Linked DNA regions of Homo sapiens. The protein of the gene in region 4 purifies or fractionates together with the protein of the main gene of each other region. This does not show direct contact. Each region holds a gene or a part of one and is shown on either strand. Other genes may lie near its edges. The genes, in order: CCDC50, IPO8, GTF2IRD1 and ZNF382.

The links.
Region 1: the proteins of ZNF382 (region 4) and CCDC50 purify together in Homo sapiens (affinity purification with mass spectrometry; one large-scale study listed by BioGRID and IntAct). This does not show direct contact.
Region 2: the proteins of ZNF382 (region 4) and IPO8 purify together in Homo sapiens (co-immunoprecipitation; 2 studies listed by BioGRID and IntAct, with this or other methods). This does not show direct contact.
Region 3: the proteins of ZNF382 (region 4) and GTF2IRD1 purify together in Homo sapiens (affinity purification with mass spectrometry; one large-scale study listed by BioGRID and IntAct). This does not show direct contact.

What each region holds. Positions count from the first base shown.
Region 1 is NC_000003.12:191,393,670-191,401,299, forward strand, and holds the end of CCDC50 (coiled-coil domain-containing protein 50 long isoform), read left to right. Parts: 3' UTR 1-4,990; downstream 4,991-7,630.
Region 2 is NC_000012.12:30,632,260-30,639,623, reverse strand, and holds part of IPO8 (importin-8), read left to right. Parts: coding exon 1-109; intron 110-2,436; coding exon 2,437-2,642; intron 2,643-5,337; coding exon 5,338-5,541; intron 5,542-7,364. UniProt on the Homo sapiens protein: Involved in nuclear protein import, either by acting as autonomous nuclear transport receptor or as an adapter-like protein in association with the importin-beta subunit KPNB1.
Region 3 is NC_000007.14:74,455,463-74,462,826, forward strand, and holds part of GTF2IRD1 (general transcription factor II-I repeat domain-containing protein 1), read left to right. Parts: intron 1-7,364. UniProt on the Homo sapiens protein: May be a transcription regulator involved in cell-cycle progression and skeletal muscle differentiation. May repress GTF2I transcriptional functions, by preventing its nuclear residency, or by inhibiting its transcriptional activation.
Region 4 is NC_000019.10:36,601,445-36,609,508, reverse strand, and holds the start of ZNF382 (zinc finger protein 382), read right to left. Parts: upstream 4,197-8,064; 5' UTR 4,162-4,196; exon of another isoform or gene 3,779-4,161; intron 1,958-3,778; 5' UTR 1,896-1,957; coding exon of another isoform or gene 1,887-1,895; intron 42-1,886; exon of another isoform or gene 8-41; intron 1-7. UniProt on the Homo sapiens protein: Functions as a sequence-specific transcriptional repressor.

The DNA.
Region 1 (7,630 bases), on a different chromosome or scaffold from region 4:
GATAAAATGGGTAAAGAAAAACCTCCATTTAAATAAGGAAGGGGAGACAAAATGGAAGGTCCTGGCCTTAAGTCAAATTCCAGATAGTGCTTTCAATATCCAAAGCTTAGGCCTTGTTTACTTATAGTAATGCTATATTTTTCTTTATCTGCCCTGTGATTTCGCTTCGTGTCCTTCAAAGTTTTTTTATTGTAATTTTAAAGGAAAAAAACAATGTATTTTTATTTGATAACTAGGCAAAATCATTTGCCATTTTTTATTTCATAAATATTTATTTTTCTATCTCATACAATGATCAGTTTTACTTTAAAAATTCTGCATTTCTCTTGCCTCTCATGTACTTCATCCAGTTATTTATTATTGTAAAATGTTAACTGGAGATACTGCATTCAAAAAAAAGTCGGACCACTTAACACTTACCAGGAATGTTAGTGTTTCAGCTGTTTTAGTAAGTGACCAAGTAAGCTATCACCTTGTGATAGCTAATTCAACATCTTTATTGAAAATTTGTTACTTTTTTTAAAGGTTTTTAAAAGATTACAATTTTAAAATATTTTATGTTTATTTTATTTTTGTGTAAAGCAAACACTTTTAAAATAATATCAGAGTAATTATTACCCTATGAATAAGGAGATAGAAATGAAATTCAGCCAGTTAAATCCTCATACTCTTTCTCATTCAAATAATATAATAATGTTTGAGACTATAGAAGCAACTCAACTGTATTTTAATGAACTGCCAGACACTTTTCACTGTGTTCTCTGCTTTTTACTTTGTCATTTTTATATAAATGTGAAAGCATTTTGTTGTTGTTGTTGTTGTTCCTGCTGCTAGAACACATGCAGTTTAATTTTTAGGCCCACAGTGTATTATGCTTTAATGTTGTGATGTAAACTAATACTTCTGGCCTGGGAAAACCTTTCTGTTTCTGTATCTTTGTCCTTTGGAGGCCAGGCCTCATTAACACCAGTATTGTTGAATAAGCACAATATATGACGGAGCCTTATCATAAGGCTGCTTGACATAGACACCCACTCTCCTCCACATTTTATAAATCATTGTTTGGAAGTAAAGTTAGATAAGAGTCAAATTAAATGTTTTGACTTGAAAAATATTTGACTTTTGCGTTCAAACCACTGTTAGACGTAAGTATTTTATTAGACATAAGTATTTTATTTTGGGACTAGACAGTTGCTTTACATGTATTTAAGGGAACATTGTGATTTTCAGAAAGTGGCTTTACATACTATTGAATTGCTATTTCCCAAGTTACTTTACAACCAGCAGCAGCATACCAATAAATTACAAAAGCAGAAAATGAAAATTAACCCTAGGTGTTCTGATGATAGAGAAATAGCTAAATTAGAAAAGAAAGATATGGATAGATGCTTTTAGGAGGAAAACCTTTTTAGAATGGCAATGACCACTTGGATCTAGGTCAACATATTCCAAAATGTGTGACCTTGGGCTTTGTGTTTACTGAACTCACTCTAGAAAATTCTGGACCTGATTCATTAACCCCGCTTTTCTTCTCTAATGTGTCCTGAAGCTGAGCTAGATGATGAGTAAATTCTTTGCTGACTGTTGCTCATCACTTTCTCTCAAAGTTAGAACTTTTCAGTATAAAAATAATTAGCTTTTAACTGATTATTAATTTTCTTTAATAGTTTCTGTCAAAACTTGTCTAAAATTTGTGTTGTGCCAAATTGGAAATACCCACTATAATATGGTGCATTCAGTTTACTCCACAAGTGGTTAACATTTTAAGTCCTAGATTTTTTATGTCTTGCCTTTGTATAAGCATCGCTTTGGGGAATACCAAGATGATTCATTATTCAGTGATTATTTTCTTGAAAGATAACTATGATGATTGGCTGTAAAATCTTCACCCTAATAAAGGAGTGAGATCTCTGTGTAAACAGCTTTCTGAAGGACTGATAATAGAATAGAACTTGCAGCCAAAGGCTTTTTCCCTTTTGAGAAGACGGTATTTGTGTAAGGAGTGCTAAGGTAGACTTCATTGTACATAGAGTGCCATATTCTGTTGAAACGATCATAACAAAATCAAAACCTCATGCTTCAGCAAAAAGGAAAAAAGATTTTTAAATTACTTTGTCTATTACTTACTGCTCATAGAGAAGTGACTATATAAAATGGTCCAATTTTCTCATTTCTGGTGGTGCCTGTGAGTCTTAAAGCCATATCTGCTTATCTTACTGTTGATAGAATACTTTTTTTCTTTTTAGCCCATGATAAGTAATATGGGCAGGTAGAAGCAAACTGGAGACTGTCCTGTTAATGCTGCATGGGGCACAATGTCTTTCAAATTATTGGTGGAAGAATCTCTTTTATCCATGGCGAGAGGTAAGAATATTAAAGAGTCAGGATATTGTTGCTCCTGGTATTTAACAACTGTCATTAGAAATGCTGAAATTTAATTGTAGAGAAGTCAAGAAAGAAAGAGTAAACTGAGAAAATCTTACTACTACAGAGTCACTTTTACAATGAGACCTGCACTTTATGCCAGCACTGTTTGTGAGGAGCAGTACTGCCTTAAATTAGTTTGACTCTGACTGATGTCAGTGTACGTTACTTCCTTTATGTGACTGACAGTCAGCTTTCCATTGAGATATAACATTCACAGATGATCCCCAAGTATCCTTGTCATCAGAAGCTTTGGACCTTTTCTGCCACTGACTTGTGGCTGATCTGTAACACAATAAATACATAATTTTATTTCATGTTGTCTGTCCACCTCTGAATAAGCAGTGGCATGACCAAAAAGACTGGTAGAAGGAGAGAATTTCTTGGCCAAATCCTTCATACCAGGTACCACTTCTTGAGTAACTGAGAGTTGACTGTCTTCTATGGTGACTACATAGAAGATATTTCCAAAGGTTCTGTTATGCAGTGAAGACATTCAGATTATTTGTAAGAATTTCACCAACACCCTTGTGTATTGAAATGCTTAACCATTAACAGGGAAAAAAAAGGAGAAAACCGAACAAAACAGAGACATTTACTTGAAATGGGAGGTTTGCTAATGTGAAGAGTGTTTCTGTTTTATTACTTATAAGAGAAAAGCAGGAAAACTTTTGCTTTGATAAGAAAGACACCAGAGTGGTGATTCTGTTTGATGCCACAGGCTAACACAATCGTGTAATCATGTTGAGTTGTAGAAATATATGGCCCTAAAAACCATTCTCTTTCCCTTATATATATAAATATGTGAACACTGCCTAGTAACATTTTAATAGATTTAAGATGCATTTGTACATTCTCAGCAAACTAGAAGAAAATGTTTTTTCTCTTTTTGAGTTAACTTCATAGCATAGAGAACCAGCACTGTGCAGGTTTCAGCATTTCAGATAAGGGCATAATTAATTGTGTAACTTAATGCCCTGTTATTCATTGCTGAGGTTCATATAAAGAATAGAAAAATTGAAAGATGGGTTTGGGCGACATTTTCTTCCCAAAAGATCAAGTAAGGAGTAAGAACAAGTAAGGGAAGACAGCTAAGAGAACATACTATGACATATCATAGAATTGGGATACATTTTTGTTGCACTGGATTTCAGGCTATACTGCTAAAATAATTTCTACCTGTTAAATTTTGTGAGAGGGTTTTTGACATCAGAATTTTTGTATTTCTGGTCAAATTGGTCTTGGAAATCCCTATGGTCTCTAATTTCAGCTCTTGCTGTAAACTGCAAGCCAAATGCTCTTTCTCAGAAAGAGCTATATTTTTCTCTTCTTACAGGCAACCCAATATTTATTTCATAAAGTGTTATAAATATTGAGAAGATACACTGGGGAGATAGCATATAAAAATGATGCTCCAAAATGAGAATTCTATATGGGGCTTTCCCTAAGAAGAATCCATCCCAGCACATATTTTGAAAAGGTGCTGAATTAAAAAGTACAAGAGTTTGCTCATATAAATCAAGTTGCCCAGGAAACCTGAGGTGATGCTATCATTTGTCTCATAATTTAGAAACGTGATCTCTTGAGAGAGAGACTACGCATTGCCTGGGCACTTTCAGATTCCTTAGGAAGTGCCCCTTTGATATTTGGAATGTGGATATATTTATAAAACAAATGGATTGTTATTCCAAATCCACATGGATTTATAACCAAGCCCCAGAAGAATAGGCAGCTTTGAAATAGCTAGTTCGTGGAATTGAACAGAACCTTGATGGAATGCAGTTGCCTGTGTGAGGACAGAAAACAAAGAGGCTGCCTCAGACCACATGCCTATCTAGAGATTAAGTGAATTTGTGAGGGACATTTTGTGGATGCCTTAAAGATGACCAGTGGTGGGTTCTGATGGGAATATATACACTCATCTGGACTAGGCCAATGGAAGCAGTCTCTTTCAGTTCACCTCCGTACAGCACAAGTTGTTCCTGCTCATGACCTCATTGAGGAAAATGAGAATTGTGGTGCTGGTGACTTTCATGTGTCTTGGGAGGTTGAGGTGTTCAACATCGTTAAGGCACTCCCAAAACGCAAACCTCCTTTTTTAAATGCCAATTGTACATCTACATTAATTCATCTATGCAAACTTGTGTTTTCATGGTTTGTTTTTTACACTATATTTCTCATTAGGTTCTTTAAACATCAGGTTTAATATTGATATTATGAATAATTTTTAAACCAAAGTATTCTATAAGTCTGTGTGCTTTGTTTTCCTGGATGGTTTGACCAAGGTAAACATCAGTCTTGTCCTTCTCTCTTAATAAAGTCATCCATTTGTTAAGTCAGTGGTCTCTGTCTCATGTTTTTGTTTTGTTTCTTTACAGCATTCAAGGACAGGGAAACTTACGAGAGTCTTATTATAATTATTATTATTTACAAAATGACCCTAATAGGTCTGTTTAGTAACAGTGAAATTTTTTCTTACTCCATTTCCATACACTTTCTGTAAATATGTATAACATGATAATGATGCCTGGTGTATTGAAATCCTCAATAAATACTGCCAAGTGTGGATCAGTTGGAGAAGTAGCTTTGTTTTGTGTGTGGTGTTTCGTGGTTTGATTGATATATTTGGGAGGAAAAAAAACAGGTAAGTGGATGTTCACACAATAATTCCAGTGATTAAAGACCCCATGCACAACTCTGCACTATACCTGACACCTTGTGGACACTTCAATGTATTTTGAGAAATGGATATTAATAACTGATTTATTCAATATTTTACCTTCATAAGAATTTTTTTTTTCTTATTTGGTTTGATAGAATAGCCACAATGTAGGAAATGATTCTGCAAAAATTAGGTATCTTAAATATAATATTTTCAATGACTACTAAATTTATTTTTAAAGATGTCACTATTTAGCCACCCCTACAGTAGATTCTCTAGGCCTCAGATTCCTCTGTGGCAAATATAGCAGGAAATCTAAATGATTTCTGTAGTCTCTGCTAGATCCTGAGTAGTACCAGTGATGTGCAGGTGATACTGTTTTATTTAGTTGAAGATTAGTATGTTGATTTCAACCTTTGGTCTCTAAATAAATACTAAAGTTGCCAGTGGAAAAAGTTGATGCATCTAGAAGCCAACTAAAAAATTAAATATGCAAGTAAAACAGATCCCTTTAATCTGTGGTAAGAGGTACTCAAGGTGATAGGGTGGTTTATGGGGAATATGACTTGAGTCTGATTGTCAGGCTATGGCCATGTGGCCATGTGAAAAGGTAGCATACAAGAAAGTTCCTTCTTTTTTTTTTTTTTTTTTTTTTTTTGAGATAGAGTCTTGCTCTGTCGCCCAGGCTGGAGTGCAGTGGCGCGATCTCGGCTCACTGCAAGCTCCGCCTCCCGGGTTCACGCCATTCTCCTGCCTCAGCCTCCCAAGTAGCTGGGACTACAGGTGCCCACCACCATGCCTGGCTAATTTTTTTGTATTTTTAGTAGAGATGGGTTTTCACCGTGTTAGCCAGGATGATCTCGATGTCCTGACCTCATGATCCGCCTGCCTCGGCCTCCCAAAGTGCTGGGATTGCAGGCATGAGCCACCGCGCCTGGCCAGTTCCTTCTTACAACAGCTAAGAGACCACTATCTACCTCGCACACCTTCGAAATTTGGTGAAACCTTTAAGAGGGTTTTGGACTACTACAAATCCTAGAACCATGGTTTCAAGACAATTTTGCCCCCATTTCAAGGGCAGGAAGACCAATGCCCCTCCTCCATTGTGTTTGGGTATCATGCTTAAATGAACGAACATAAACTAAAGGCTGCTGCGAAATCAGTGTACTAAAGAAATCTACAGGAATGAGATACGGGGTCCTAGTCCAGGTTTTGCTATGAGCTTGTTTCAGGACCTTGGGACATCATTTATCCTGCTGTACCTCAGTTCACTTGCCTGAAGCACTACTTCAAGTATAACATTTGAGGATTCCTGCGGTCAACGGCTGCTGGTTTCTTTTAAGATGTTGCCAGGAAGAGAGCAGCTTTATTCACTGCTGGGTCCTGTAAAATCACAAAGACTTCCTAGGCATTCCATCATGAAAGACAACCATGATCTTTTGTTCTTTACTGCAGTATTTTGCTACTTCTGTCTCCACATCCAGTAGATTGTCATTAACTTGTTATGTGTTTTTCTAACCAATACCCATCTCTATGTTTTATTCCCAAGGCTGAAATTTGAGCCTCTTTCCTCAAATGGTCTTCGGATGTTCTTGTAAATTAACTCCACTAGTATGTCTTGCATACCATACTTCCAGGACACACCCACTTTTCTTATCGATTCCTCAGCCTAATGATGCAAATTTGGTTTTGATCATGTAGATCATAACATACCCTTAAGTATGCCTGCCACTTTAAAGTATTTTGTGTCATTACCTGATCTTTGCCATCACTAGCAGTGCTCTTTGTGCCTAATCTTTTTGAAACCTTTCCTGCTGACCTGTCCATCCCTCATTCCCTCACATCCCTGACCAGGCTGCAGGGGCTCTCAAACACAGGTAAATCTGTCATTGACTCTATAAGGGTTTATGTATATATGAAAATGGACTTTTCTGGCCTGGACAGTACCAATTGGTGTATATCAGTTTTTTCTTTTATGGATTATTATTTGGTGCCAAACCTGAGAGCTCTCTAGCCCAACATCCTGAAAATTTTCTCCATTTTGGAGTGGATTTTTGTATAAAGTGTGAAGGTTTAGGATAAGGTTTACATATTTTGCCTGCATGTTCAATTGCTCCAGAAGAATTTTCCTGATATCTTCTAAAAATCTCCCATTTCTAGTTTGATTCTGCATGATTCCAATTTCATTAAATTTGTTGAAGTTTGTTTTATGGCCTGGGATATTGCCTATTTTAGTATATGTTCCATAAGCACTAAAAAGCACATGTGTTGCTGTTGGGTGGAGTGTTCTATATACTCACTCTCCTTGACTTATGTTGGGGTTATGTCTACATAAACTGATTAAGTTGAAAGTGCCTTTTCAACTTAATATTTTCAATTTATGATGGATTTATCCAGATGTAACCCCCTCCTCATTTTTGTAATCATATTCAGATTACATTTATCCAGATGTAACACCATTGTCATATAGTCAGGGGCTATCTTTATGTTGATTAGATCTTGGTCAATGGTATTGTTAAGTTTTTCTATATCCTCACTGATTTC
Region 2 (7,364 bases), on a different chromosome or scaffold from region 4:
CTGATTTGCTGCTACATACTTTAGAACGAATTCAGTTGCCTCACAACCCTGGACCTATCACTGTACAGTTTATAAATCAATGGATGAATGATACAGATTGTTTTCTTGGGTATGTGTCTTTTGGATTTTACACTGCTTTTCTGTTTCTGGAAAGTTTGCTTTTTAATATTTGTGTATAATAGCATGTACAAAGATAATTTTCATGTCTTAGGAATTATTTTTAGTGTATTGTTAATATTTAATTTTTAGAGGATTAAGAATGCATTTCAGCAGGGTAATCTAGTGGAAAGAATGCAGCCTCTGAAAATTTGATGTAGCCCTTTCCCGCTTTTATTTTTTTTATTTATTTTTTTTAAACACAAGTGTATCATTGTATCTCTAGGCAACAAGAATTAGTTGTCTGTCTGGGTTCCATGATTAAGTGTCAGTGGGTAAAAACATTCTAAATGGAGTTGGATTTCTAAGGATGGTACCCCTCTGGCAAAGATAAAATGTAATGTCACAGAATGTTTAACTCTTTGCAGATCTCAGGGATGCCTGTTCTCAAAAGTGGAGTCAGAAGGCTTGTTATTTGTAGCCCAGGTGCTGCCCCAGTAGGAGAATTTGGTTTTATGTGAAGCACTCTTCCTAGTTTTCAAAAATAGGAAGAGTGAGGCCGGGCGCGGTGGCTCCCATCTGTAATCCCAGCACTTTGGGAGGCCGAGGCGGGTGGATCACGAGGTCAGGAGATCGAGACCATTCTGGCTAACACGGTGAAACCCCATCTCTACTAAAAAAGCACACAAAAAAGCTAGCAGGGCGTGGTGGTGGGCACCTGTAGTCCCAGCTACTCGGGAGGCTGAGGCAGGAGAATGGCATGAACCTGGGAGGCGGAGCTTGCAGTGAGCTGAGATCGTGCCACTGCACTCCAGCCTGGGCGACAGAGTGAGACTCCATCTCAAAAAAATAGGAAGAGTGAGATTCCAACTAGTGTTATGTGCCCACCTCAGGTCACCCAACACAGATTAGTGATTGTGTTATGCTAGAAATTGAGCTAGCTGTCTAATTTGTTTTAAAACACTATCTAATATCTAACTGGAAATTAATAGTATTCTTCTTAAGTTTTGTGAGAGATCATTTAGAAAAATTTCCTGAGAGGAACAGACTCCCCACAGTGGTTAAGACACTGCTGCCACAGGCAGGAGAAGATGGAGGCCTGGATTAGGGTGGGGCGTTAGGAATGGGGGAACATATTTACAAGCTGCTATGCGTGTTCTAATTTTTCTACTTGCAGGACACTGGAATTAATCCCTGATTGAGATTTGTTATTAAAACCTTGAAGGGAAGAACATACTATCAAAGAAATTGTTGTTAAAGTTATCTCTGAGAAAGATTTAGGGAGTAGAGATTTGGTAATTTAAAGTTAAGCGGTTGGTTCTCTTATGTGTTTATTAGCACTGGAAGCAGTCTCCCTGCTATTGTGTAGACTGGGAGTCCTTGGGTTGTGCTTCCTTGGATTCTTTCGAGCTCTGCTTGATAATCCTCTTTTCTGCTGTGATCCGTGTGGCATGTATTTAGGGGTTGCATGGATGAGAAGGTCCTCAGGTCAAGTACAGTTCTGTTATAGCGTACTAGTTGGGCATTAGTGACTTGAATCAATCAAGGAATGCAAATAATGAAGAATAACAGAAGCCTGTAGAATATTCATTATTGGATTTGTTATATTATTCGCACTTTAAACACATTGAATCGCTGCAAGTGAATTTTTTATTCACACAATTTTAAGAATGTTTTGCCAATGTAATCTTTTAGTTCTTAATTTTTTAGTTTTAAGCAACTTAGAGGAAGCATTTAGTAGAAAAATGTCTAATGTTTACTGGTCAAACTTTTTTTCTTTCTGAATAAAATTTTCCTTGTCCTTATATTTTTCTTATGCTATTTTATAGCACAGGAGTTTAGTAGACTGCTTAAATTAAGTTCAGCTTACTATCTTACTAGATGCTGAGTTTTTGAAACATCTTTCACCTCTTAGGGTTTGGGTAGATTATGTGTGCTGAGAAACCTTGTAGATCAATCTAATGTTGGAAGAGTCTAAGAAACTCTTCATTCCCCCCAACCATTGTATAGGACTTTTATGCTGTCAAATATAGGTATTTCTGCTTTATTAAAACTCCTTATGCCGAGGCCCATATATAACATTTATATTAATCATAAATTGATATTACAGCAAGATTCACCATGTTAATTGCAGACTCCCAATAGGTCTTTGAAAATAATTGGTTTACAAAATTTGATTTACATAGCATTTCATACAGTACAAAACAGGGAATGTCTCTGTATGATACCAACAGATGAACCTTAGAGTATGCCTTGGACATTTCTTTTTGTAGTTTCTCCAGAATTTGTTCTTTATTCCACTTCTCATGTCTACATTTTTTTTTTCTTCAAAATTTGCAGGCATCATGACCGGAAGATGTGTATAATAGGACTGAGTATCCTTTTGGAATTGCAAAATCGACCTCCTGCAGTAGATGCTGTGGTGGGACAGATTGTTCCCTCAATTCTTTTCCTTTTCCTTGGCCTAAAGCAGGTCTGTGCTACTAGACAACTGGTAAACCGGGAAGATCGTTCAAAAGCAGAGAAAGCTGATATGGAAGAAAATGGTAAAGTCTTCTAATTGAAATTAATGTTACAATTGATTTTGATTTGTGTATGCATTTTATATGAATACTAGTCTATATGGAGACATTAAACAGATTTACATTCTTCGGCCTGCTACACATATAACAAATATTTTGGGCTTGGTTGACTTGCTATTAATTGTATCATGCTATATAAATTTAGATTTATGCACCTTCTGACACCTAATATACTCAGCGGTTTTTTTTATGGAGCCTAATAGATGCTGTTACACATTAGGAAACACATTTATAACAATCAAATGGTCTTGACTGTAAGTTAGCAATCTAGTATCTAACTTTCTTGTTTGTGCTAACAGCCTCATCAAGGCAGTAGCCATGAGTTAAATGAATCATTACATTAAGAGCTGAAGTGTTAGTACCACAGATTAGTAGAGAGTGTCTTTTTTTTCTTTTTCTGGAATGGTTCTTAGGTGACTCATTAGCAAAAATTACATTTGAGAGACGTCCATATTTGTGATTTAAATATAAATTAAGGTAAAGTACATAAATGAAGTGGATATACTTGAGAATCAGAATAAGATTGTTAGAGTTGAATATTAGACCTTTGTTTTGTTTAATGATGAGATTGCGGAGCTACTTGCTAGAGACTAGGAAGTAGCATTCTCCTATTCCAGGTGGATTTTTTCCTCTCCTGGTTAAAAACAGATACTTTGTTAGCTGAGAAAAATCAGAACTCTTCCTGGTAAACATACAGCTCTATTTTTGATGCTAAATTCTGTGATTTTAGCATGGATAGATTTAAAACACTTTTAACTGGCATCATCCCAGTTTGTTCATATACCAGAGATTATAAACTACCCTTTTTCTCCCCTCCACAGCACAAAATACAGCTTCTAATTTGTTTTTCTGAAATCTGTGTAGGTCTTTTGAAGAAATGCTTCTTTATTAGAAGTGTTGCATGTGTGATTTTTGTTTTGTTTTGTTTTGTTTTTAGCTAACTGTGTGTCAACAGTTGTAGAATTCTTTTATTTTTTCCAGTATGTTATGATCTCTAATTTCTTGTTTTGGCAACTCTTTATTGGCTTATACTGTATGGCTTGAGGGAAAATTTTCTGGTAATATCCCACACTTTCTTGTACTTCCTACTAAAGTATGGAATGATTAACTAGTGGAGGTATTTCTCAGTCTTTTTGTATTAATAGTTATAATTTGCCATGCATTTTTTCGTGTATTTGGTCCAAACTCTGGTTAAGTGCCTTATTCCTAAAACTACCTAGTTCAATCTACCTGCTTCAATATGGTGTGTCTAATAGAACTAGTTTTAGGTTAATATTACCTGGTTTGGGTTTACTCCAGGATTTCTCTCTTATCTTGATTTTTGTTCTGCATTTACTGCCTTCCTGTTCCAGTATTTCAGTTACAATCTAACTGCTAGGAACAGATTGACACTGAAAATAGATACAGAATCCATGGTGATACATAATGTAGTTCAAGTTTTTAACTTTTCAAGCGACATGTAGCTATTTTTCTTTACATTTTTGCTATTTCTTTTTATTATAAATTAGCAAATTATATATTTATGGAGTACAAAGTGATGTTATGATTTGTGAATATAATGCGGAATGATTAAATCAAACTAATATATCCATCACCTTAAATACCCTTTTTAATGGTGGGAACATTTGAAATTTACAATCTTGCCAATTTTGAAATGTACATATACTATTAACTGTATTCACCATGCTGTACAATAGATACCAAAACAAAACAAAACAAAACAAAAACCTAATTCTTCCTGAGACTTTGTACCCTTTTACCAACATTCCCATATTCCCACCACCTCTAGCCTCTGGTAACCACCATTCTATTCTCTACTTCTATGAGTTTGATTGTTTTAGATTCTATGTATAAGTGAGAACAGGCAGTATGTGTCTTTCTGTGCCTGGCTTATTTCACTTATCATAATGTCCAAGTTCATCAGTGTTGTTGGAATTGACAGAATTACCTTTTTAAAAGCTGAATAGTGTTTCATTTTAAAGAATCCACATTTTCTTTATTCATCCGTTGTTGATGGACACTTAGGTTGATTCTGTAACTTGGCTATTGTGAATAATGCTGCGATGAACACAGGGCTGCTGACATCTGTTCTACGTATTGATTTAAAATATTTTAGATATATATCCTGAAGTGGGATGGCTGGATCTGTATTTTTACTGTTTCTACTAGCAGAAATGATCTCATTTGGGCATTTCTAAGCACTTTATAATCAACTCAGTTAATTAAGAGGACTGAATTCTCAATAGGAAGTCATTGTTTAAAACACATGCACTGACCGTACAGTCACTTTTTTTTTAAACAAAGGTAATTTTGAAATCTGCAATTGAATAATATTCTTGTATTAATGAACTTGCATAGCCTAACAGTAGTAATGTTCATCTGGATAACAGGTTTAGGGAACTTGTTTTCAGTGAGGAGGATAAGGACATTCTCAACTTAGCAAACTCTACAGTAAAGATAAGGTTTATTTATTTTATTTTTTATTTTTATTTTTTGACTCTCCTCTTTAGACCAGGGATAAGATTTATTTTTATTAAAATTTTGTGGAAGATTTTTTCCTTTCCAGAGTGTAGTTTTATAGTCTTTGGTTTTTGTCGTGAAGTTTTATATTTTGTCCTTATGTGTTTTGATTCCTTTTAAATAATTAATGGGTTCACAGAGGAGATTTCAAGTGATGAAGAGGAGACAAATGTAACTGCTCAAGCAATGCAGTCAAATAATGGAAGAGGTGAAGATGAGGAGGAGGAAGATGATGACTGGGATGAAGAAGTATTGGAAGAAACCGCGCTTGAGGGGTTCAGTACTCCACTTGACCTTGACAATAGTGTGGATGAATATCAGTTTTTTACACAAGCTCTGATAAGTATGTCTTTACTTCCCCACATCTTCTGATATTTTTTTTTCTAAACTCTTTCTTCATTTCTTCCTGTTTTGATATTTGCCCAAGATTGGTCTAGGTTCTTTTAAAAATTTTTTTGTTTATTCCTTATGATAGAAATCCCCAAACATACATACATGAAATGATAGAAATTAAAATAATGAAACACCTATCACCCAATCCTAGCAGCTTTCATCATTGAGAAGTAGCAGGGTGAGCCTGTATGTTATCCTTGCAAAAGTAATATGTGGAGTATCTGTGTATATTGTTCATCCTTTAGGCATAAATGGGCAAGCATTTTTATAGCAAAGAATGAAGTGTTTCAGGCATACATTGCTTAAAAATTGTGGCTAACAACCTACTAGTTATTCACAATCCCTAGAATGAAATTGCTGCCGTAAGAGGGTGACTTTTTACTTTGTAAGTAATTTGCCAATTTTATACAACAAAGAACAGTATAATTACAGTTACAGGACTCATAAATGATTCGGGGGGAGAAAATATTTGCCACATATGCATAATAGGCATAATGTACACAGTGTACAGAGGCCATCCTCAGATACATAAGACCAGTAACCTAGTAGAAAATGGAAATGGAAAATTTACAGAATAAAAACAAGCCAATGAGGATATTTAGAAAATTATTAATCAAATAAATTATTTTAAATCTCATTAATATAGATTATTTGTTTTATGGTTAGATAGTATTTCCATAGTTACATTGTAATTTAGTTCCACTGTGGGACATTTAAGATTGTTTCCAATGTTTTTACCATTATGAGGGTTATTAAAATGAACATCCTTACATGTAAATGTTTTTACTAATAAGGCAATATTAGCTTAATATATTGGCATTTTTTAGTGTTGCTACAAATAACATTAATGAAGAAAAAACTACCTAGATGTTCTTATTGAAATTCAGAGGAATTGGAGGCAGAGAACACAGGAAACTATATTCCAAAGCATGGGAAACGTAACAGCATAAACGTGGAGATGGAAATATGGAGGATGTGGCCTAGTGTAGTTCCAGACATGGGTGTGTCATAATCACCAAGGAGGCTTTTAGGTCTTGAGTAGGATCTCAGGAGATGTATTTTTAAAGATGCTTCTCAAGTGACAAGCAACTTTAAACCAGCATGTAGGGGCCACTGCTTAAAGACTGTGAAGGAACGCAGTTGGGCTGGGCTATAGTGGCCTTGAATTCTGGACTGAGGTGGTCCATCCCATTGCCCATTGGAATAGCGTTGAAAGTTGTGTTCTGAGGCGGTGACCTTTTAGATGTGGTAATTCACTTCAGGGGAGTTACCCGGTGATGGATGATGTGCAGAAAAAACTGGAAAGGACTAGATGTGGGAGCCAAGTGTTAGAGGTTCACTTTATTAATTTAGATGTATAGAGACCTGGAATGGGGAGGGTGACATTTGATGGAAAGCAGCATACAGATGAAAGACATTAAGAAAGAAGCAGAGCTTTGGGTGTGGAGAGGGCATGCTCAGGGATGTTAAGGATGCACAGTAGTGGACTGGGAGACTAATAGAACTGGTGAGATAAATGGAGAGATAGAAGGTTTGGGAGGAAATTGTTAAATTTGGTTTTAGTTGTGTTGAGTTTGAGATGAGCTATTCAAATGGAACAGTCCAGGAGGCTTAGGGGAAGGTTTTTCCTAGAGGTACAGATTTGAATCCTTGGGGTGGTAGCAATACTAAAGCTGCAGGTAGTATGAAAATTCCAGAGGAAAATGGTAACAAGTGAGTACTGGTGTTCTGGATTTTAGAGAACATCCATAGAAGACAGCAAAGGAGACAGAG
Region 3 (7,364 bases), on a different chromosome or scaffold from region 4:
GAAGGTGCCCCAAGCAGCTCATTTATTTCAGCAGTGTCATTCCAGAGGGGAAGGGCACCAGCATCGATTATTTATTCTAAGCAGGAGGAGGTGGCTGGAGGCTGGTGGCTGCTGGCAGGGAGGGGCTAGGTATAAGGTAGTTAGGTGGCCGTCATGAACCGCCCTATTTGGGGCCCAGGAGGGTGTGAGATAGACTCTGACCTCTTCTGAGCAGGCATCTGCGGACCAAGGGACAGGCTTGGCCCCAAGGTGACAGGGTATCGGAACCCCCATCCTGCCTCTGGGGTGTGGGAGGCTCAAGTCCACACCTCGTTCTTCCACAGCCTGTTCTGAGGGTGACCTAGAAATTGGCAGTTCTAACTCAGAGGGTCCCACAGGACCCCACAGAGGAAACTAGGAAGGAAGGGTTGAAACTCCGCAGCCACTCAGAGCCTGCACTCTTAAAATGTTCGAGAACTTAAGGCCGATGGTTGTAAAACTGGGTCTTGAAGACAGCTTTGTAGGGGGCACGCTAAACCTACTTAAAAGGACTGTTCTCTCGATGTTGGGAGAAGGGTCATTTATTTGCAGTATGCTAATCACAAATAATTTTTATCTGTTCATTGAAGGCAGCCTCCCAGGAGCCCGGCTAGCCTTCTGATGAGGTGGTAGTCGTCAGCACTTGGTGTTTGGCAATAGTCTGAGTGGCAGCTGTAATCTAGGGTCTTGGAGGTAGCTGTTTTTGCAGCCTGCTTGACTCCAGAGGCCAGGCCATCCACGGTTTGGTGACAGCTTGGTTGTTGGACCTGGGGTCTTGTGGATGGTGGGTGATGGCTTGGGACATTCACGTCCTAAGCATGACCTTGGAACCATAGACTGCAGCTCCCAGATGATTCTCATTCAGGGTCTAGTCTCTGACCACTCACTGCTTCCTCAGCCGACTCATAAATCCTGTAGTCTGGCCGGGCGCAGTGGCTCACGCCTGTAATCCCAGCACTTTGGGAGGCCGAGGTGGGTGGATCACGAGGTCAGGAGTTCAAGACCAGCCTGGCCAACATGGTGAAACCCCATCTCTACTAAAAATACAAAAAATTAGCCAGGCGTGGTGGCAGGCATCTGTAATCCCAGCTGCTCGGGAGGCTGAGGCAGGAGAATCGCTTGAACCCGGGAGGTGGAGGTTGCAGTGAGCCAAGACCGCACCACTGTACTCCAGCCTGGGCAACAGAGCAAGACTCCATCTAAAAAAAAAAAAAGAAAAAATTCTGTAGTCTTGCCGTTTTCCTGAATGGCCTGGCTTCCTCCTACCCCTGGCCTCTGCACACACAGTTCCTCTTCTCTCGAAGGTTCTTCTTGGCCTTTCCCCTGAGGAGGCTGGGGGGCTTCCTTTATTAGCCCTGCCTGGCTAGGGTAGGGGGTCAGGATTATAGAATTTGCCTCTTTTCCTCTCCTTCAGGACTTGGCTTGGCTGTGGTATCTTTGGGCTGAAGACTTCCTCGTCCTCAGGGCTGGCCATGGTTCCACCTTTATATCCCCATGATGTCCTCTCTTTTTTTTCTTTTTTTCTTTTTTTGAGACAGTCTTGCTCTGTGCCCAGGCTGGGGTGCAGTAGTGTGATCACAGCTCACTGCAGCCTCGAACTCCTGGACTCAAGCCACCCTCCCACCCCAGCCTCACAAGTAGCTGGGACCGCAGACAAGGGCCACTACACCTGGTTAATTTTTTATTGTTTGTAGAGATGGGGTCTTGCTATGTTGCCCAGGCTGGTTTCGAACTCCTGGGCATGAGGAGTCCTCCCACCTTGGCCTCTCAAAGTGCTGGGATGACAGGAGTGAACCACCGCGCCTAGCCAACATCCTTTCCTTCCTTTGTCCCAACATTGATCTTACTCAGATGTTTACATCTCTCTCCCCAATTGCACTAGGGACAGGAAGGGATGGAGGCTTGCTCCTCAAATACTTGTTAAATGGCTACATGTTTGAATGAATGAATGAATGAAATCCTGCTCTTGAGCCTTGACCTAAATGGCTAAGCAGACTCTCTCCTATTTTTCTTAAATGCTCATCTCTGGGGCAAGTTCCCCACCCTGGTAGGAGTCCCAGGGTCTCTCCCTGAACTTCCTGGGGCCCCCTCTCTCCCCACTACCCCAGCCTGTGTCTTCTCCCAACCTTAACCCTGGGGGCTTTGCTCCCCAATGTCATCCTCTCTGTATCTCTCAGTTCTCTGACTCTCGCCGTTTGTAAGTATCTCTCTCTCAGATGCGTGGCAGCCAGGGTCACAGCCAGGTTCTTTGGGACAAGCCAGGGGTGTATGCCCAGCTCCATGGGGCCTGCAGAGGCTTCAGGGGACACCCATGGAAGAAGACCTGCAGGGCCAATTTATAAACAGAGGAGCAGAGCAGGACCCAGGGCTTGGAATCCATGCTGAGTTACGTTTTTGTTTTTTTTTTTTTTTTTTTGAGAGGGAGTCTCACTTTGTCGCCCAGGCTGGCATGCAGTGGCGCCATCTCGGCTCACTGCAACCTCTGCCTCCTGGGTTCAAGCGATTCTCCTGCCTCAAGTAGCCGGGATTACAGGCATGCTCTACCACGCCCGGCTAATTTTTGTATTTTTAGTAGAGATGGGGTTTCATCATGTTGGCCAGTCTGGTCTAGAACTCCTGACCTCAAGTGATCTGCCCGCCTCTGCCTCCCAAAGTGCTGGGATTGCAGGCATGAGACACTGCGCCCGGTCCTGAGTTCAGTTTTGATTGGGGGGCTTCCGGGATAATATGGGGCCGCTAGGACAGGGACCCTTAGTGTGACTGGAAGGGAATTTCCTGAAGGAATTCATAGCAGAGGTGGAGTGGTGGGAAGGATGGTTTCTGGGGGAGAAGGAGATGCGTGAACCTGGCCAGAAGACAGTGTGTTGTGACAGATGATTGCTGGTGAGGGGGTAACAGTCTCCAAGGTGTAGATGTTGGGGGCTCCAGATACGGCAGGAGGGGCCTGGCCTCTCGGAATCCCCTCAGCCCCATCTCATAGAAACATGTGCTTTCTACCCAGGCTCCATACTCCGGAAGGGAGGCAGGACCCTGTCACTTTCTTGGCCTACTTTGGAAGTTCTCAGTCAGGTATCTCCAGGTGTGGCAGAGGGGCTTTGGCCTGTAGGGGGTGTGGTAATGTGGGTTTTGGAGGCAGAAAGCTTTTCAGGAAAGCCCCCTGGTCCATCACCCCCCTTTCTTTTTTTTTTTTTTGAGATGGAGTCTTGCTTTGTTGCCCACGCTGGAGTGCAGTGGCACGATCCCAACTCACTGCAACTTCCACCTCCCGGGTTCAAGTGATTCTCGTGCCTCAGCCTCCCGAGTAGCTGGGATTACAGATGTACACCACCACACCTGGCTAATTTTTGTATTTTTAGTAGAGACGGGGTTTCACCATGTTCGCCAGGCTGGTCTTGAATGAACCCCTGACCTCAAGTGATTGGCCCTCCTTGGCCTCCCAAAGTGCTGGGATTACAGGTGTGAGCCCCCAGGCCCGGCCTCATCATCACTTCTTCACCCACCCTATTTTGGTAGCTCTCTCTCCACTCGTCCTGTGGAACTGATCCATTCTCGGTCCCATTCCCTTCTCTCTGGGCCAATCTGCACCTAGGTTTGTGGCTTCATGAGTATGGAGGGTCGTGCAGAAAGGGGCCAGGTCTGTAGGAACCTGGGTTCATGCCCTGGAAATTTGCCCATTTAAGATAAGTTAGGGCCGGGTGCGGTGGCTCATGCCTGTAATCCCCAGCACTTTGCACTTCGGGAGACCGAGGCGGGCGGATCACCTGAGGTCAGGAGTTTGACTAGCCTGGCCAACACGGTGAAACCCCATCTCTACTAAAAATACAAAAATTAGCCAGGCGTAGTGGCGGGCGCCTGTAATCCCAACTGCTCGGGAGGCTGAGGCAAGAGAATTGCTTGAACCTAAGAGGTGAAGGTTGCCGTGAGCTGAGATCGTACCATTGCACTCCAGCCTGGGCGACAAGAGTGAAACTCTGTCTCAAAAAAAAAAAGATAAGATAGGTGTCCTGAATAAGATAGGTGAAATGGGTGAGGATGTACTTTATCTTACACGGTCTTAGGGAGTGTCTCAGGCGGTGAACAGAACTCTCTCGCCCCTGAGCTGGGGCCTGGCTGACCCAGAGCTATTTGTGTGCCCACCTGTCACCCTCTTTCAGGACCACCTGCTTCAGGTTGCCAGATTTAGCAAATAAAAATAAGGATGCCCAGCTAAAATTGGATTTCAGACAAGCAAGGACTAATGCAATATTTGGGATGAACTTCTAGCTAAAAGTTACCTGTTGTTGATCTGTAGTTCAGACTGAACTGGAGGTCTTGCATTTTATCTGCCAACCCTACAACTGCTGCCTCTGGGGCGGTGAGATGGATGGGGTTTGGGGAGGGGCCAGAGGTGTGTGTGGCTGACCCTGGAGTTGGGATCAGGGCTCAGTGGAGGCCCCGGGGATGATCTGGAGCGAGTTTGAATCGAGTGGAGCTGATTCACTGAATCTTGGCTTTTTTTTTTTTAATTTGTATTGAAATGAGGTCTCACTCTGTCACCCAGGCTGGAGTGCAGTGGCACAATCTCGGCTCACTGCAGCTTCTCCCTCCCCGGCTCAAGCGATCCTTCTGGCTCAGTCTCCCAAGTAGGTGGGACCACAGGCACACGCCACCGTGCCCGGCTAATTTTTTGTATTTTTGGTGGAGATGGGGTTTCGCCATGTTGCCCAGTTCCTGAGTTCAAGTGATCTCAAAGTGCTGGAATTACAGAAGTGAGCCACTGTACCCAGCCAGCAGGGTCCTTTTTCATTTTTATTTTATTCTATTTTTTGAGACAGTGTCTCACTCTGTTTCCCAGGCTGGAGTGCAGTGGCGTGATCCTACCTCACTGCAACCTCCAACTCCTGGGCTCAATGTGATCCTCCCACCTCAGCCTCTGCACCTAGCTAATTAAAAAAAAATTTTTTTTTTTTAGAGATGGGGTCTTGCGATGTTGCCCAGGCTGGTCTCAAGCTCCTGGCCTCAAGCGATCCTCCCACCTCAGCTTCCCAAAGTGCTGGGATTACAGGCAGTATCCTTCTAATGTCCTTGGTCGGGCCTCCTCCAGCCTGTGGCTCGAGGGTCTAGATCTCCTACTGGCCTGGGTGGCATGGAGGGTGTAGTCTAGGTGGCCTGAGGGGTGCCCAGGGATCCCCAGTTTGGGAAGTCCTTGTCTTCAGGGATTTCTGGCCAATGTGGTCCGTATATTTAGAGATGCTGGGAGGAGGGGGTGGGAAATTGCTGGAAACACCCTATTATACACCAAGTAAGATTTTCATGTAGGATTGGCAAGGCCTGAGTGCTGGGAAAGTGTCTGCAATGGCTACCTTTCAAAGCTGGGAGACCCCGCCACGGGGGCGGTTGTGGACTTGAGGGGCTGACCCCACAGCACGGAGGCTGCTGGGAATTCCTGCACCTTTGCCATGCTGCCACCTGAGGCAGGTTCCCAGCACCTGAGCTGCAGCCTCTGGAGTGGGGGAAATGGGGGGAAAGTAAGGGGCCGGGGTCATGGGGTCCACGTCCACCTTCCGCCCGCCTGGGCAGTTTTCTTGGATGTAAAAGGGAGATGGCTCTCCCCAACCTGCCTGGGTCCCAGTGTGGTGCTGTAGTCCAAGGGACTTGGTGTGACCCCGTGGGGATGCCACAGCATGGGTGTGTGGGACCCCCGGGGGCAGGTCTGTGGTGGAGACAGGGTGGGAGGGCCTGGCTTGAGGGCTTGCGGTCCTGGGCACTTGAGGATGCAGAAGAGGCTGCATGGTTGGGGAGGGTAGGTAAGCAGGGGGCAGCTTAGCCCTTTCCCCTCCTGTTCCCTGTGACAGAGGGGAGACCCTCCAGGCTGTTTGTGTCTTAGATGGTTGGCCGAGGGTAGGCCTCTTTGCTGGCTGGGGTCTAGCAGGGTCTCAAGGTGCATTTTCTGGCTACTGGCAGAACCACCATCAAAGCAAGTCCGTATCTTTTCGTCTATCCATCTGTTGTTACGCCAGCCAGTGAGGACCTTGCAGAGGCGTCAGGCCTGAGGGAGTCTCATTAGGTCCTGGTCCCCAGCCCCCGGCTGGCACATGAGAAGGGCCCACTTTATATTTTATTTTATTTATTTATTTAAGATGGAGTCTCACTCTGTCACCCAGGCTGGAGTGCAGTGGCGCGATCTCGGCTCGCTGCAACCTCTGCCTCCCGGGTTCAAGCAATTCTCTTGCCTCAGCCTCCTGAGTAGCTGGGATTATGGGTGCATGCCACCTCGCCCAGCCAATTTTTGTATTTTTAGTAGAGATGGGGTTTTGCCATCTTAGCCAGGCTGGTTTTGAACTCCTGATCTCAAGTGATCTGTCCACCTTGACTTCCCGGAGTGCTGGGATTACAGGCGTGAGCCACTGTGTCCGGCCCCACTTTATATTTTATTAAAAATATCGTTGAGGAGTGAAGGCTATGCTATACCAGGAACTTGCCTGGCTCACACCCTTATGTCGTCCAACCCCCGTCAAGACATAGAACAGCGCTTTGGGAGGCTGAGGCGGGAGGATGGCTTGAGGCCAGGAGTTTGAGACTAGCCTAGACAACATAGTGAAACCTCCATCTCTACAAGAAGTACAAAAATTAGCCAGGCGAGGTGGCTCATGCCTGTAGCCCCAGCTACTCAGGAGGCTGCGGCGGGAGGATCACTTGAGGCCAAGAATTTGAGACCAGCCTGGGCAACATAGCAAGACCCCGTCTCTTAAAAAAAAAATTAGCCGGGTGTGGTGATGTGTGCCTGTAGCCCCAGCTACTTGGGAGGCTAAGGCAGGAGGATTGCTTGACCCCAGGAGTTAGAACAATCCTGTAACCCCTAAAAGTTTTTGAAGCCCGTTTGTTCATCCTTGTCTCTTGTCCTGACCCCAGCAACCACTGATCTGTCTTCTGTATATGGTTTTCCATTTGTACAATGTCACATAAATGGAATCCTACAGTCCACAGCCTCTGAATCTGGCTTCACACAGCATAATGCATTTACGGCATTGCTGGGTACACGGGTAGCTGGTCCCTTCTGGTCCCTGAGTAGTGTTCCATGGTGTGGATATGCCACATACCTCTAGCCACTCTCCTCTCTAGGGAAATCTAGCAAACCGGCTTGGCCGGCCCTGCATCAGCTCGGGACCCCCCAGAAGAAGGTGGTTCCTCTTTCTCATTTTCACAAAGGCACCATCTGGCTGGCGGGGGGCCTGTGGCCTGCACCCCATCACTACCCACCCCCCACATCAAGAGCTGACCCCAAGCCGGGGGAGCTGCTCATCTCCGCCCTCAGAGCTGGAATTTCATCTTCTGTTTCTGGTGACTCATACTGTGAGCCCCGCGAT
Region 4 (8,064 bases):
TACTCACAACGAATTTGTTTTGTAGGAATACAGGGCATCAGCTTTTAAAAATTCATGGGGAGAAAAAAACCAGTTAGTAAATCAGGAAATAGCAAAAGGCACAGTATGTTAGGAAACAGTCTTTGAGCTCTAAGAAGGAAAAGGTATATGGAGATAGGCAATGGGGATATTATGACATGATACTAGATTTTTTTTTCCTACAGAACAGTGGTCTTAAAGATATACTGAACACATTCCCAACATTGTAGCTATTTATAAACCATCAATAGGCATTTATGAAAATCTACATTGTTAATGAATACTGCTCTCGAATGTAAATTGTTAGTATTTTATTTCCTTCCAATAGACCGTCTTATACATTCTACTGTGAGGCATGCCCTACTTTGGGTCTGTTGCTTTAAGGAATGTAAAGAACATCAATAAACATAAGTTGACACACGTTATGTGATAAAAGTTTTGAGGTAATACTCCTGAAGACTGGAAAAGGCTTATCACATGTTAGGTGGAAATGACAATTAAGTAACCATGGTTAGAAATGTCTCCTAGATTAAGGAAGTGTCAGCGGGCTGACAGAGGACAACTGCTCCTACATGACCACCATTACAACAGAGATGGTCGTAAATTGGCTGTAGAGTGGAAAAGATACAGGCATTTTATCTGCATAGGCAAATGCATGGCTGCTGGGACTAGAAAGTGAAAATGGGAAACGGAAGAAAATGTAAGCTGGACCAAAGGAAGTAATGAGGTAAGCTTTGGAAATGTACTTTGTCTGTGGAACATACAGGTGGTGATAGCTACTGGAGGTTGAATATTCGGTTCTGACACTCTGGACAGAGGTCTAGAGTGGAGAGGGGTATTTGAGAGTCACTAGAATCACACTAAGTGTAGCCTTCAGAGTGAATCTGATTGTGCGTAGAGAAAAACGGACTGTGAAGAAGAAGAGAACCAATTAGCATCTGAGGAAAACCAGTATTTTAAAGGTTGGTGGATGAGCTAAAGAGGAATTTTCTGAAAGATATGAAAAGAGGACAAAGTACTGTTTGATCAACAATAGAATATTTCAAAAGTGGCCTGGCATATGGATTTCCTTCTCCTGCACCCGCAAATAAAAAATTAGAAGAAACTAAAAAGAAAATAACAAATCTCTAACAGCATTGGAATACTGGAAAGGTTTTCACTGGCAGCCCACAATTTGTAGGAATGGCTAGCAGACATGAATGAAAAAAGATCAGAGAGGAGGAACATAAAACGTGTTTCCTTTACAAGCCTGCAATCAAATTGCTATCCTAAACACCTCACAAAGCAGGACATCTTTCCAGAAACTAATGCTGGGATCTACCACTTCTATTTCCCAACGTACCATTGCAAAACCTAGGCTAGCGGAGATCATCAAGGTTTTTCCACGTCTGCTCCATGACTACTCACAGCTTAGGTCTCAAATCAGCATCAGGACAAGTTAAATTCATTCAAGCCATATATTCCCATTTAAATCAAGACAATACCTTTCTATTCCAGCAGTTTGTTTGTGAGAAGACTGAGAAAGGAGATGATGAATGATATACCCAATGAATATGTACAACCAGAAGGTACACTTGGGGAAGGCTTAAGTTGATTTGGTTGGAATGGAGAAATTGTGAACAGGGCTGGATACAGGGTGAGGCAGGTGAGGCACCTAGAATGCAAAATTTAGGAGGGCACAGCCCTGAGGGTACCCCTTAAATATTTCACCTCATGCCACTTGCCTGCCTCAGCCTAATCTGGCCCTGACTGAAGACTAATTTCATGGAAGCAAATCCCAATATCAGGGAAGGTTAAAGGACAGTGAAGCTCATGTTCATACACCATGAAAAAAAGTTATTTCAGAAAGAGAGGAAACATCATCTCACCTGAGACATGGCTTTGAGATTTCTAGATGAACTTTCTCTTTTGAGCTCCTCTTTTGGAAAAAGAAACAGTCCTGAGAAAGCAAAGATGGAGGATATACGTATGTGAGACCATACTTGACTCAGAACTCCCAGAATTAACTCAGTTAAATCTGCATGAATGTTCACTATTTCAGCACTTGTCCACCCTGTGTACCCTTCAGATGTCCAGGATGGTAGTTAGTGGGAAAACAGACAAATCAGGCTCCCTCACAAACACCAGAAACCCAGTCTCTTGGTAAAGTATACAGGATTCTGGGGAACCTGTTTTAGCTTGAAGAGAGGGAACACTGTGTTTTTCCCTCTGCAGCTCTGCCTTCCATCTACCTCTAACCACAGGTTTACTGTGTATTTCCAAACGGTTCTTCTTGGACTTTTTGCCAATTTACACTGATAGTAGTGGATGAGAATACCTTCCCAAGCCCTGATGAAGACAGTTGACAACTTTTAAATCTTTGCCTATCTGGTCTATGTTGTAGTTGAGAATAATCTTTTTTTTTTTTTTTTTTGAGACAGAGTTTCACTCTTGTTGCCCAGGCTGGAGTGCAATGGTACAATCTTGACTGACCGCAACCTCCACCTCCCGGGTTCAAGCGATTCTCCTGCCTCAGCCTCCTGAGTAGCTGGGATTACAGGCATGCACCACCATGCCCGGCTAATTTTGTATTTTTAGTAGAGATGGGGTTTCTCCATGTTGGTCAGGCTGGTCTCGAATTCTCGATCTCAGGTGATCTGCCCACCTTGGCCTCCCAAAATGCTGGGATTACAGGCATCAGTCACTGCACCAGGCCCGCAAAATAACTATTTTAATTACTACAGTGAGACTGGACTTATTAAAAATCTATCAAATACTTTTTATTATCTTAGCAAGCCTAAGGGAGTAGGAAACCTCACTCATATACAAGTGTTGAAAGTGGTAGTTATGCCAGGCACAGTGGCTCACACCTGTAATCCCAGTACTTTGGCAGGCCGAGGGGGCGGGGGGAGGGGATCACTTGAGGTCAGGAGTTCAAGACCAGCCTGGGCAACATGGTGAAACCCCATCTCTACTAAAAATACAAAAACTAGCCGAGCGTGGTGGCACAAGCCTGTAGTCCCAGCTACTCAGGAAGCTGGGGCAGGAGAATCACTTGAACTTCAGAGGTAGAGGTGGCAGTGAGCAGAGATCATGCCACTACACTCCAGCCTGGGCAAAAGAGCAAGACCTTGTCTTAAAACAAACAAAAAACAACAACAAAAGTGGTAGTTATGGTAAAAAAAAAAAAAAAAAAAAAATTTCCTGCATGTCCCCAATGGAATGCTATTCATTTCAACATACTGGTTTTAGTTAATATGGTGTTTCCAGGAAATGAATCTGGGAATTATGAAAATCATCTCTTCCCCTCTGATACTGTTATCTCTATTTTATTTGCTAAATTGCTACTTAGTTACAGTTTTGGAGGCAGGCTTAATGGCTACTATTCAGATAATCAAGTCTTACATAACCAACTAGCCATGGTCATAACAGAGTTCCTCAATCATTCAAATATTTAGGTCACTAAGGCCACAAAACCACCAGAAGTAACAGTAGGTTACAAACACATGCAGAGTCACAGTCAATCAAACATCCTTCAGAGAACCACCAACCTACAGGCCCCACTTGTCATTCACAACCTCAGACAGCAGCTAACACGACTCCAGGCAGTCACAACCACACCTACAAATCACTTGCAATTCTCCACACTCAAAGGCAGTCTCAAATGCGACTCACACCTAATCTAAAAATAGACACACGCAGAGGAAACCTCGCGCAGCAACACTACTCCGTTCACTTTTCACACACAATCGGCCACAACATCCCAAAGAGAGGCAAGCACCTAAAATGCAGCAGGTTGGGCGCAGGAGGCCACCCCTATTCAGCGCGCGCCCGCGCGCGCGAACACACAGCGCCCGCTCCGCGCGGGGACCCGCCGCCAGCGATGGCGCTTCCGCGGGATCAGAACGGGCAAAATCCCCCTTCGCGGAGCTCGCTCCGGGTCACCCTCAAGGTCACGCCCATGGACCACGCCCGAGGCCCGGCTCGTACAGATCGGAGCGTCTGGATACCGCGGTCCCGGTTTCCTCCTCAGAATTTCCAGGCCCGGCTCGGACTCTTGGTTACCTCCCTGGCCTCCCCACCCGGTTCCGCGTCCTTAGACAGCTCTCCCGGAACGGAGCTCCCAGTGCCCTCCTTGGCCTCCTCAGCACCCCTGGCACCCACCAAGCCTCACCCCCGGCCCAGGGTGAGTCGTCTGCGCCTGCGCACTCGCGCGTGGGCCTGAGCTCCCAGGAGTCTCCGGGGCGGCCCGTTAGTCGCCGCGCGGTGCTAGCTGCCGGCGCTCCCCTCCGTTTGCACCCACGGCCGCCCTATTGCGGCTGGCACTACGCTTCTGCCAGGACCCCGGCTCCCTTTTCCGTTGACCTGGTGTTCGTTTTCCATGTGGTGAGTTGAGGTGACCCGGGTCTGGATGCGAGAAGAGCTCACGGCAGGGGACCTGGGTTCATGGGACGCGGAGAGGGTTTGTGGAGGCAGAAGCCCCAGGCCTGTGTGCAAGTCACCTGCTGGGGAGGGAGACTGTGTGATTGTGTTTGTGTGTGCCGTTCTGTGGCTGCGTCCGTGTGTGGTGGTGTGAGTGGGCGCGCCTGTGATGGTCCCGGGGGGGCGGGGGGTGTGCACAGCAGGGGGTGTGTGTGCACAGCAGGTGCACAGCCCGGGACAGCCCTGACTGTCCCCGATTGGGCCCGCGGGACTGAGTGGGGGCGGGGCCGTTTGTGTGACGGCGCTGAGCGGTGACTATGAATGTGTCATGCTGTTATCAGTGATCCTGTGACAGCGCTGTTGTGACCCACTGGAGACTGTGATCAAAACTGGCCTGGTGCAGCTTTTGTAGAGTTTGATTTCTGCAGTTCTGGGGCTCAGGAATACGTGGACAAGGTCCCCGTATGGCTCGATCTGTGTCTGTGAAGACTCTGAGACCTTCTGTTCTAAAGCATGGCCCCTGTCGCTTTCATAATGCATAATACACAGTGGCATGCAGCCTCGCCAACCTCTGGGGCCAATTTTAAGTTACGTGGTTTCTTGGAGTTTGTTATACTGGGATTTCTTTCACTGCCTCAGTCATTTCACCTTATAACCACGTTGCACAGTGTGCAGTCAAATGGCTATCGAAAAGAAAGTTGGATATTTGAGATCCAGAATGAAGTTTCCAACTGAAAAAGCACAGCCTTGTGTTTCACATGGACAAGGCTGTGTTCTGATATGCACAGCCTCGTGTTTGATATGGAGATGTTAGAGCTGGAATTGCTCCCAAGGCAAGGTTCTGGGAAGATATGATATTGAGGCCCCAGGAGTAGGATTCGTTTCTCCAAAGATTTTGTGTGTGTGTGTGAGATGGAGTTTTGCTCTTGTTGCCCAGGCTGGAGTGCAGTGGCGCAATCTCGGCTCATTGCAACCTCCGCCTTCCGGGTTCAAGCAATTCTCCTGCCTCAGCCTCCCGAGTAGCTGGGATTACAGGCATGCACCACCATGCCCGGCTCATTTTTGTATTTTTAGTAGAGACGGGGTTTCACCATGTTGGTCAGACTGGTCTCGAACTCCTGACCTCAGGTGATCCACCCGCCTCGGCTTCCCAAAGTGCTGGGATTACAGGCGTGAGCCACCGTGCCTAGCCAAAAGATCCCTTTTGGAAGCTCTGTGGGGGCAAGTTGAATATTGCAGATCCACAGCATTTTCATAGCTGTCTAAAGGAAATTATTGTGAATACAGAAACATTTCAGTCCCAGGCTTTGGTGAACCTGACTTTTCTTTATGAAGGGAAGAGTCAACAATATTCCAGTCTTTCTCATACTTCCATCTGGTCATATTCAGCATGGGTTATGGAAGCTTGCCGGTGGTGAAGAATGTGTTCTTATTTAGCCTGTCTGGGCTCCAAGAAAGGCTGAGTATATTGTGATTCCCTTTCTTTCCACATTTTGCTGTATTCCAAGAGAAGAGCTCTGAGAGAAGAAAAGCATTGTAGTTGCACATTTTAAAGCAAAGCTGGAGGTCATTTTGATTTTTTTCTTTGTTTTATGAAATGCATTTTTGTTTTTCAGGATGTGGAATAACTTCATTTGAAATGCTCACCAAATAGTGACTTATCTATTTACCTGGTCTCTAGTCCTTCTCTTCCCAGTTACTGATGACATTATGAAGACAGATCTCCTTCTTTCCAGTACCTCATCAGATGCCCTTCCTAGAGTTAATTTTCATATAACACCTTGACAGTATGTTCACTTCTCCTGTGTGCTCTTTTTGTTTAAGCATTCTCATGACATAGAAATAGTCTGCCTTCACACGGTGATTTGTTACGGAGGAGACCAATTGCTTAGGTAGAATTACACATTAGATAGTTTAGATTTTCTTCAGAGACATGAGTGGAAAAACAGCAAGATAGGAGATCGTTTGAATGGTTATAGTAACTTTTTTTGTTTTAGAGGACCTTAGGAGTTAGAATATTATTGCAGAGTATGTGCAGAGAGAGCTGTTAAGAAGGGCAGGAAGTTTTTCCGAGGGGATACCTTAGGAGATTTATATGGTACCAGCTAGTTCTTGCATGAGGTTTGGCCGCATCACGTGTTTTTTTTTTTTTTTCTTTTGAGACGGAGTTTCACTTTTGTTGCCCAGGCTGGAGTGCAATGGTGCGATCTTGGCTCACTGAAACCTCCGCCTTCTGGGTTCAAGCGATTCTCCTCCCTCAGCCTCCCGAGTAGCTGGGATTACAGGCATGCGCCACCATGCCTGGCTAGTTTTGTATTTTTAGTAGAGACGGGGTTTCTCCATGTTGATCAGGCTGGTCCTGAACTCCCCCCACCTCAGGTGATCCACCTGCCTCAGTCTCACAAAGTGCTGGGATTACAGGCGTGAGCCACCGTGCCCGGCCAGGTGTTTTTTTCTTTTTTTCCCCCAAGTCACATAACTGTGTAGACTGTGTGAGTATGGTATAATGGTCTCTGGGTCTAGAACAGGGGTTTGCAAACTATGGCCCTGTGGGCCAAATCCAGCCTGTAGCCTGTATTTTTGTATGGCTTGTGAACTGATTGGTTTTAACTTTTTGTTAATAGTTGACCACGAAAAAAAAAAAAAGGAGAGTAATATTTCATGACATGTGAAAATTATATGCAATTTAAATTTGTGTCCATAAATAAAGTTTTGGATTTTGGCAATTAAAAATTTGTGGAGGTGGCCAGGCGCGGTGGCTCACACCTGTAATCCCAGCACTTTGGGAGGTCAAGGTGGGTGGATCACAAGGTCGGGAGTTCGACACCAGCCTGACCAACATGGCAAAACACCATCTCTACTAAAAATACAAAAATTAGCTGGGCATGGTGGCATATGCCTGTAATCCCAGCTACTCGGGAGCCTGAGGCAGGAGAATTGCTTGAACCTGGGAGGCGGAGGTTGCAGTGAGCCGAGATCGCGCCACTGCACTCTAGCCTGGGAGACAGTGAGAATCCATCTTAAAAAAAAAAAAAAATTGTAGCGTTCAGGTGCAGTGGCTCACGCCTGTAATCCCAGCACTTTGGGAGACTGAGGAGGGAGGACTGCTTGAAGCCAGGAGTTCCAGACCTTATCTCTAAAAAAAGGAAAAACAAAGGGGAAATTTTTCATCTCTCTTTTATATAAACTCCTATATAATATCCTTAATTTTGCCTTTTAGCTCACAAAGCCTAAAATATTTACTATCTAGTCCTTTACAGAAAAGTTTGCCAACCCCTATTCTATAGTATCTGAATTAAAATCTAAGGTTTTGCTAATTATTAATACTGTGTGTGAATTTGGGCAATATACTCAATATCTTTCTGTTCTATAGTTTATTATTTATATAATAATAGTACCAATTTCAAAGGATTTTTATGAGGATTAGCAAAGTTACTATTAACAGAGTAACAAAACGGTGGCTGATAATAATAAATTATTAAGCTTAAATTTAAAACCTTATTATGTGGATATTCTAAGTCATTCCACATTCACATATAAGGTGCAATGAAAATATGAGGTTAATTGTGATGGGCAGTGGTGCGATCATAGCTCACTACAGCCTGGAACTCCTGGGCTCAAGCAGTCCTCCCACCTCAGCCTTCC